Regions from separate parts of the Homo sapiens genome. Here region 2 is linked to region 1. Evidence: fine-mapped expression QTL. Tissue or cell type: gastroesophageal junction. Region 1 holds a variant in brackets; the other region holds the start of a gene. All regions are shown on one strand. Distances are from middle to middle. Region 1 overlaps LOC105372853 (a long non-coding RNA gene). Region 2 holds the start of LINC01634 (long intergenic non-protein coding RNA 1634).

Region 1 (4,388 bases):
CGAGACTGCAGTGTTGGGGATCTAAAGAAGACCCTGCCCCTGAGGAAGACAGTTGGCTTGGAGCCATCCAGTTCCTGGACATGCAGGATGAGCCGCTAGTCCACATTAAGCTCCCCACCAAGGGGTCTTATCCTCACTACTCCCTTTCTGTCTGAATTTGGGGAGACCATGGTACCACCCCAATAGATCAGAGCTGAATAAATTCAAAGCAAATGACAATCCCTGCCATGCTGCTGCTTCTCTCAAACCCCAGCAGCCAAACAGATAAAGGACTTTGTATGAAGAGGGAGCAGCAGACTGCTGTATGGGTGGCAGGGATGATGTGATGGGATTGGTGTGTTCTCTGCCCAGTCAGATCCATTTTCAATTCTCAATAATAGCAAGTAGCAATAAAATATTCTCTTAGACCATCACATCGAGGTTGCGTACTTCCTTGGACATGCAAGACCCGGCAGATTGTAAAGCGAGCCACGGTATTTAGGAGCCAGGACCCACATGCCAATGTCATCACCTCTCCTGCCTCTCACCCCACCTCCTTTCCAGAGCCATTGAATTTAGAGCAGTGTTGCCCTCTGCTCTCTGCACCAAATGCAACTGGCATACAGCTGCAGATATGGCTGCCATGCCCCATCCATCCTACAGGTGCCCATTGTCAAGTGAAGAAATGCCTGACTTTGGAGTGACAGCGTCAGAGTGTGTGGAAAGAATCCTCCTATCCCCAAACCACCCGAGAATTACATAGCTGTGCCCCATCATGCTGGCTAAGAACCTCTGCCCTCCTGCCCCCGCCTCTGCCTGCACCTGCATGACTTGCAGCTTAGCAAGCCTCTGAGCGATGACACAGCTTTGACCGACGGGGGCCGCCACTGCCTGCCCGTTGGTGGGCACAGCCAGGAAGACTCCTTCAAGGAGCACACGCTCATTTCATCCATCTCCTGGAAGCAGCTTGCCCATGTCCCTCAGGACCCAGCCCCTGCCTGCCTTCCTGGCCTCATTTCTCACTCCTAGTCTCCTCCTCATACCCACAGCTGCAGTCATAAAGCCCACCCTGCCACTGTCCTGGCCCACTCTGCCCTCTCTCAACCTGGGACTTTAAGCAAATGACTCCTTCTTCTTGGAAGCCCCTCTCTGCTTCCTGGACAGGCTGACCCCTTTTAACCCTCCAGAGTTTAGCTCAATTATCACCCCTTCTGGGAAGATTTTCCTAAATCTCTCCTTGCCTCTGTCAGGTGGGTGACGAGCTACTTGTCTATCTTCCTGTGGCACCCTGTACTTACCTGCATTGCAGCCTGCTCACCGTCTGCTTACGGAAGCAAATCCCACACCAAACTATTAACTCCTGCAGGGCTTTGCTGCGCATTTTATTTCTAACTCCTTACCTAGCTAGGCAGTGAATATTTCTTGAATGAATGATCAGGATCCCTTGGCCTCGTGAGTAACCAGGTCTCCACTAGCGAGGTAAAATAAAGAAGTAAGGCTGTGATCTCAACCTTCCAGGCCAGTCACCTGTCTTATCAAGCACATCTGCGTCCTGGAGTGTTGACTCCTGCACCCGCACTCTAGGCCCTCCCTTGGCCTCCCCCACCCAGTCCTTATTCCCACCTCTGCCACCCTGTACCCTGAGGCTCCCCTTGGGCACTCTGTGGCTAAGAAAACAAAAGTGTCTCTCTGGTTTACCAAAGAGAACGTGCTATATCCTTGGATAAGGCCTTCCTTTCCCCCCTTCTCTTCCTGAGTTAGGAGAACCTGGGCTGCACCCTTTCCAACTGCTGGATCAGCCTCTGCCCGCCTCCCACCCCAGCCCCCACCTGAATGGGAGAGGAAACACAAAACCTCAGAGAGGGTCTGGAGGCAAGAAGCAAATTGAGTTTGAAAAACGGGACTTGGCTGGGTGCGGTGGCTCACACCTGTAATCCCAGCACTGTGGGAGGCCGAGGCAGGCGGATCGTTAGGTCAGGAGATTGAGACCATCCTGGCTAACATGGTGAAACCCCGTCTCTACTAAAAATACAAAAATTTAGCTGGGCGTGGTGGCGGGCGCCTGTAGGCTACTCAGGAGGCTGAGGCAGGAGAATGGCGTGAACCCAGGAGGCGGAGCTTGCAATGAGCCGAGATTGCGCCACTGCACTCCAGCCTGGGCAACAGAGCGAGACTCTGTCGAAAGAAAAAAAGAAAGAGAGAGGGAGGGAGGGAGGGAGGGAAGGAAAGAAGGAAGGAAGGAAGGAAGAAGGAAGGAAGGAAGGAAGGAAGGAAGGAAGGAAGGAAGGAAGGAAGGAAGGCAGGCAGGCAGGCAGGCAGGCAGGCAGACAGACGGGACTTGTACAAGCAAAATAGGCTGAGAATATCAACATTCAGTTAGGAAAGCAGAGGGGAGATGTGATTGGACG[C/T]TGCCGTCCTAGAGGCCTCGTTCAGGCAGGTTGGGAACGTACAGCTGGAAGAAAACGTTAGTCAGATATTAGCAGGAACCATCTTGATTTACTCAGTGTTTTAACAGATTTCCACTGTGGGGATTGTCTCCTTGGAATCAGAGTTGGGAGTGAGTGTGAGACCCCTGGAATCCCTTTCTGCCCTGGAATTCTATGCTCTAGGCCAGCGGTGGCCTTCCTGGGACCCAAGTTCCGTTAAAGCTATTTTCATCAGCAGTAAATTAGCTAGTCTGGGAGGATGGGAAAGTAGTGCTTCTAAAGGAGGCAATTCACTAGGTCAGGATGCCCTGGGGCAACAGTGGAGCAGCTTTGGATCCCAGAACAACAGCCTCCAGTGTTCAGGATGCGGTAGGTTAAGTGGGGAATCTCCACAGAGCCTGACCCATCCTCAGAGCGGGCAATACCAGGACCCCCGGATAAAACCGCAGAGACTTCCGAACTCCCTGGGGCTAACAGCTCACCATTTGTAACACTAGCTATTCAAGGAATGAAGCTTATGGTGCAGGCTTAATCTTAACAATAATCCTGGCTATTGCCATTAGACTGAAGCTCAGAAAAGTTAAGAAATTTGCCTGACACTACAAGCTAGTAAATGGCAGGGCCAGATCCTAACCCAGAAATGGGACATCAATTCGGCTATACCACATCACCCCAACTCCCAGTGCTCCTCCCAGAGGAACCGATTCAGTGAGTTGGCCGGTGGCAGGGATGGTCTAGCCTAAGCTCCACAATTCCCTCCCCAGAATAAAAGGGAAGACCGAGATCTCAGTGCCTATCAGATTTATGTTGGTGGCACACGAGCGCTGCCTCTGAAGACAAACATATGTGAAGCTCCCGGTGTCCTTTTTCCTGGCTGGGCCAGGTTCTTTCAGCAAGCAAGAACTCACTGGGCTGTGCAGAAAAAGCAGGGTTGGAGGGGAGAGTCGAGCTAAAGAGGCGTCTGAAGTAGTGGAGAGAGCCCTAGGCTGGGTCAGAATGTCTAGGTTCTTTTTCCGGTTAGTGCAGAACAAGTTACTTCCTCTCCAATCCCCAGAATCTTTATCAAGGAAAAGGGTGTGGGGTGGTGAAGAACAGAGGTATTAGCATAAGGAAATGCCCACTATACTGACCTTGCTGGGTTATAAGGATAAAATGCAATCATTACTGTGAAAGAACATTGACTAATATGAAGTGCTGTATGTAGTCATGTTTTATAAAATCCTTAAGCTCTTGTATCATTGACTCTCCAGCTCAGTGTGTTTCATAGCGAGGTGCTGGCGCTCAAATGGCCCAGCCTAAGCATTGCAATGCCCTAGGGTTCTCTGTGATCTGTTGATCATATCATCCAACCACATCAAAATCTTGACAAGATCAGTCCTGCCTGGCTGTCCACTCTTGAACTCTAGACTCCTGATATTAACCTCAGTCCCACTTTTCTAAACAAGTTGGCCAGGCACGGTGGCTCACGCCCGTAATCCCAACACTTTGGGAGGCCAAGGCGGGTGGATCACCTGAGGTCAGGAGTTTGAGACCAGCCTGGCCAATATGGTGAAACCCGTCTCTACTGAAAATACAACAATTATCCGGACGTGGTGGTAGACGTCTGTAATCCCAGCTACTTGGGAGGCTGAGGCAGGAGAATCGCTTGAACTTGGGAGGTGGAGGTTGCAGTCAGCCGAGATCACGCCATTGCACTCCAGCCTGGGCGACAAGAGTGAAACTCTGTCTCTAAATAAATAAATAAATAAAACAAGTCAAGTTCTTTCTCATCACTGGACTTTGCAAATTCCAAGTCCATAATTCAGAATACTTGGTCTGATCATCCCTACCCCACATCTAAGGTCAGCATGTCAGCATTCAAAAAGCAGAGACCAGCAGGCATGGTGGCTCACGCCTGTAATCCCAGCACTTTCAGAGGCCAAGGCAGGTGGGACACTTGAGCCCAGGAGTTCAAGACCAGCCTGGGAAACATGGCAGAACTCT
Region 2 (4,388 bases), 35 kb after region 1:
ACAGTGCTTAATGTTCTAAGTAAAATACTAATGTTGGTTATTGCTACTACTGAGTACAATGAAGAGCTGCAGTGGAAAGTCAGGGTGCTAGAGTGGCAATAATATGCAACACAGCTGGGTGCCGTGGCTCATGCCTATAATTCCAGCACTTTGGGAGGCCGAGGTGGGTGGATCACCTGAGGTCGGGAGTTTGAGACCAGCCTGGCCAACATGGTGAAACCCCGTCTCTACTAAAAATACAAAAATTAGCTGGGCGTGGTGGCACCCACCTCTAGTTCCAGCTACTTGGGAGGCTGAGGCAGAAGAATCAATGGAACCTGGGAGGCAGAGGTTGCAGTGAGCCAAGATGGCGCCATTGCACTCCAGCCTGGCTGCAAGAGCCAAACTCCATCTCAAAAAAAAAAAAAATGCAACACAAATGCATTTAAGACAGAAACCTGTTCTGCAAAGAGGAAGAGGTACCAGTAGATGCAATTATGGCAGCCTGGGGCTTTCTATAGGCCAAGTTTAGGCTACCTCATTGGAATAATATAATGTAGTTTCAGAACTGTGACTTCCGGCTTCAGCAGGCTGGAAGAAATCCATCTCCCATTAATCTTTCTATCAGACTCCAGGAAAAAAATAAAGCAAAAATATTTTCCTATTTCATCTTTAAGAAAGTCAAATTATTCAAGACACACTGAGCACCTATCTGCATAAAATAGTCTAATGATGATAGGAGTTAAAATGAAGTAAAAGATTTGTTCCCTGCTGTTAAGGATCTTATAATCCCTTTGGGAAGACAAGGTCAATACTGATACAGATGAAAGTATAATCTTCTTCTTCTTGAACAGTAAGAATCTATAACTTCACACATTTCTCTCTTTGCCCAGACTTTGAGCAAAGCTTATATTTAAATTCAGTGCCCAAATTCTGAAGCAACTCACTTTTTCTCAGGAGTCCTTCTGGATTCAATTATTTATTTACTTTTGAGATCTGGTTATGAGACTGGCTAATTTTTTGGTAGAGACGGGGTTTTGCCATGTTGCCAGATTGGTCTTGAACTCCTGGGCTCAAGCAATCTATCTGCCTCGGCCTCACAAAGTGCTGGGATTACAGGTGTGAGCCACTGTGTCTGGCCTGGATTCAATTTTTTATTACGAGTTTTATTTGTTTCTTTTTTAAGATACATATTCTAATGACAAATCATTTGAATCGTTTTGGGAATCAGAAGGTCAAAAGCACTAAAACCTTTTCTACTGGCATGAACTAGCAGTACAAGAAAAATAACCTGACTGGGCATGGTGGCTCACACCTGGAATCCCAGCACTTTGGGAGGCCAAGGTGGGTGGTTTGCTTGAGCCCAGGAGTTCGAGAGCAGCCTGGGCAATATTGTGAGACTCTGTCTCTACAAAATACACACACACACACACACACACACACACCACACATTAGCCAGGTGTGGCGTCATGTGCCTGTAGTCCCAGCTACCCAGGGAGCTGAGGTGAGAGCTCTAGGCTGCAATGAGCTGTGATTATACCACTGCACTCCAGTCTGGGCAACAGAGTGAGACTTTGTGAAAGAAAGAAAGAGAGAAAGAAGAGAGAAAGAAAAAAGAAAGAAAAGAGACAGAAGAAAAATGAGAAAAAAAGAAGAAAAAAGAAAGAAGAAAGAAGAGAGAAAGAAGAAAGAAAGAAAAAGAAAGAAGAAAGAAAAAAGAAAGAAAGAAAAGAAAAAGAAAGGAAGGAAGGAATAAAGAAAGAAAGATCCATGATGAAGACTCACAGAATCTTTGAGTTAAAGGGAACTTGGAAGTCATGGAGTCAACTCCTGTCCCAAAGTAGATATCCTATAAGCTCTCAGATGCTTGGATCCCAGCATTTCCCTAAGCAGACTTCCAGACCATTCTGTGGTGAGTCCGCAATTTTGGAAAATTCTTTGAACAGAAATCTATCTCCCATTCATCCTTATCCCTAATGATCCTCCTTCTGCCCTGCGGAGTGACATAGAACAAGCCACGTACCTCTTCTTCATTGGCAGCCATTCCTATACATAAAGTCAATAATCATGTTCTTCAGAAGACTCCAGGCTAGACATGCTCAACTGCAGTGGCCCCTCATCCTGCTGAGCAGTGCCCAAGGCCTGCAGCCTCCTCCTCTGGTGGATGAACTCTAGTTTATCAAGGTCCCTCCTGGAACCTTGTGCTACAGAGTGGTATAAATATGACCTGGCCAGCACCAAGATTCCTGGGCCAGTTACTCCGTGAAACATCAGGTTACTCTCTGTCTACTAATATAGCTCTGAGGTTTCATTAGCTGTTTCACCAGCTGCTTCCCACGTGGGGCTCTTACTGAACCTGTTGGTTGACTTAACTCCCTATCTTCTGTTTCACATGCACAAGTCAGGCCTCTACTGTGCAATATATATTTTCAACCAAAAGTGCAGGCCATTATATTTATTCATGCTAAATCTGAACTTAGTGGTTTTAGTCTATCAAAAACTCTAGGAAGACCTTTCTTTCTCTTTTAGAGACAGGCTCCCACTCCATTGCCCAGGCTGGAGTGCAGTGATGCAATCATAGCTCAATGTAGCCTCAAACTCCTAGGCTTAAGGGGTCCACTCTTGTGCACCACCACACCTGGCTAATTTCTATTTTTTTTTCCTAGAGACAGGGTCTTGAGCTGGGAGTCCTAGTGCACACCTGTAATCCTAGCTACTCGGGAGGCTGAGGTGAGAGGATCCCTTGAGCCAGGAGTTCAAGGCTGCAGAGCTATGATTGCACCACTGCACTCCACTCCAGCCTGGATGACAGAATGAGACCCTGACTCTTTAAAAAAGTAAAATAAAATAACAGGTTCTCGCTATGTCACCCAGGCTGATCAAACTGCTAATCTTAAGGGATCCTTCTGCCTCAGCCTCCGGAGTAGCTGGGATTACAAGCTCATTCTTAATGTTTATCCTGTCAACTATAGATTATAACTAAATTTTCATCTATTTTTGATTAGCTAGCTATGGTAGCTTTCTGTCATTTACAAATGTAGGCAGCCTGCCTTCAGACTTCAAGATTACTAATGAGATGCAGAGTGACCTTGAACTAGACAGTTAACCTCTGTAGAGCTCTGTTTCCTCATCTGAGGAAAGCAAGGGAGCAGAGAATGACCTCGTAGGTCTCTAGGAATTTCAGTGTACCTTATGCAAATAAAATGGCCAGCTGGTAAAAGACAGGGAAGGGGAAAAAAGCATAGACTGACCCCTTTCACTCATGGTATAAAGTGGTCAAGTAAATGTTCTATGTTCAAATATATGTATTTTAACTTTAAACCTCAGGCATTGTCTTCAGGTAATTAAACTCTGTGAACAACATGGTAGATACCTTCATTCATAATTAAACATTCAATTTTTGCATAGTGCTAGTCTGTGGGGGAGAAAAGCTGCAAAATTTACAGGTATTTTGTCAATTTAATTGCAGTAAATTTGTTCCTAAATTCAGTACGTTATCTAAAACTGCTTGATGAAATATTAGTCTTTTTTTTTTTTCTGAGACAGAGTCTCACTGTGTCGCCTAGGCTGGGATGCAGTGGTGTGATCTCAGCTCACTGCAGCCTCCTCCTCCCAGGTTCAAGCAATTCTCCTGTCTCAGCCTCCCGGGTAGCTGGAACTACAGGCACACGCCACCGCACCTGGCTAATTTTTGTATTTTTAGTAGAGATGGGGTTTCACCATGTTGGCCAGGATGGTCTTGATCTCTTGACCTCGTGATCCACCCGCCTCGGCCTCCCAAAGTGCTAGGATTACAGGCATGAGCCACCGCACCCAGCCAAAGTCACTAATACAAAGTATTAGTCTTATACTCACTTTAATGCAATAGGTGCTAAACACTGTTTTCAGTATTCAGAAATTCACTCAATAAGAGAATTTATAAAAGATCTATTGCCACGTTGAATCCACTCCTATTAATTTTCCAACAGCCTTTAGCCCTAAATTTATTCAAGAGTAAAAAACCTTTTGGCCTGATCTGATTTTAGAAGGTACATTTTAAAATAGTCAAAAGGACTAGATTCCCTCCCATCACACTTAACTTTCTCAGTGGGGAAAAAAACAAACGCTGAAAAGGTTTAAAGAGATTCTAGAGTTGACATTGAGCCCCCAGCCCTCACCTTCTGCCCTCTTTGCTATCTTCTCTCAAGGAAGAAGAAAGCAGCATTAGGTTTCATTTCATCTTGGAGAACCATCAGCGAGATCACACAGCCTTATTGCCAACCTTTGACAGTTCTATTACTCTAGTTGCTTTTCCTGAGAGGTCTCCCCTACCCCACCCATCAAAGCCTAACCCTCTCTGACAAGTTTTTCAATTTACCCAATCATCCCATCAGCAGTAAATGCTGAGATTAAAACGTGAGGATCAGAGG

The links. PIP is the estimated chance that this variant, and not a neighbour inherited with it, causes the effect.
Region 2: LINC01634 starts here. The variant in region 1 is the best candidate, but not a certain one, in a credible set for the expression of LINC01634 in gastroesophageal junction (GTEx, PIP 0.79).

What each region holds. Positions count from the first base shown.
Region 1 is chr22:18,061,901-18,066,288 of GRCh38, reverse strand. All of the region lies in intron 1 of LOC105372853 (a long non-coding RNA gene), which reads right to left. Among named protein-coding and RNA genes, the nearest start is that of PEX26, 14 kb to the left of the region's middle. RefSeq lists a silencer at 765-854. The variant C/T (reference allele first, on the strand shown) is at 2,388.
Region 2 is chr22:18,027,169-18,031,556 of GRCh38, reverse strand. It overlaps LINC01634 (long intergenic non-protein coding RNA 1634), which reads right to left and starts at 2,172. Exons shown (of 2, transcript NR_024417.1): 1 at 2,003-2,172. RefSeq lists enhancers at 1,983-2,082, 2,123-2,192.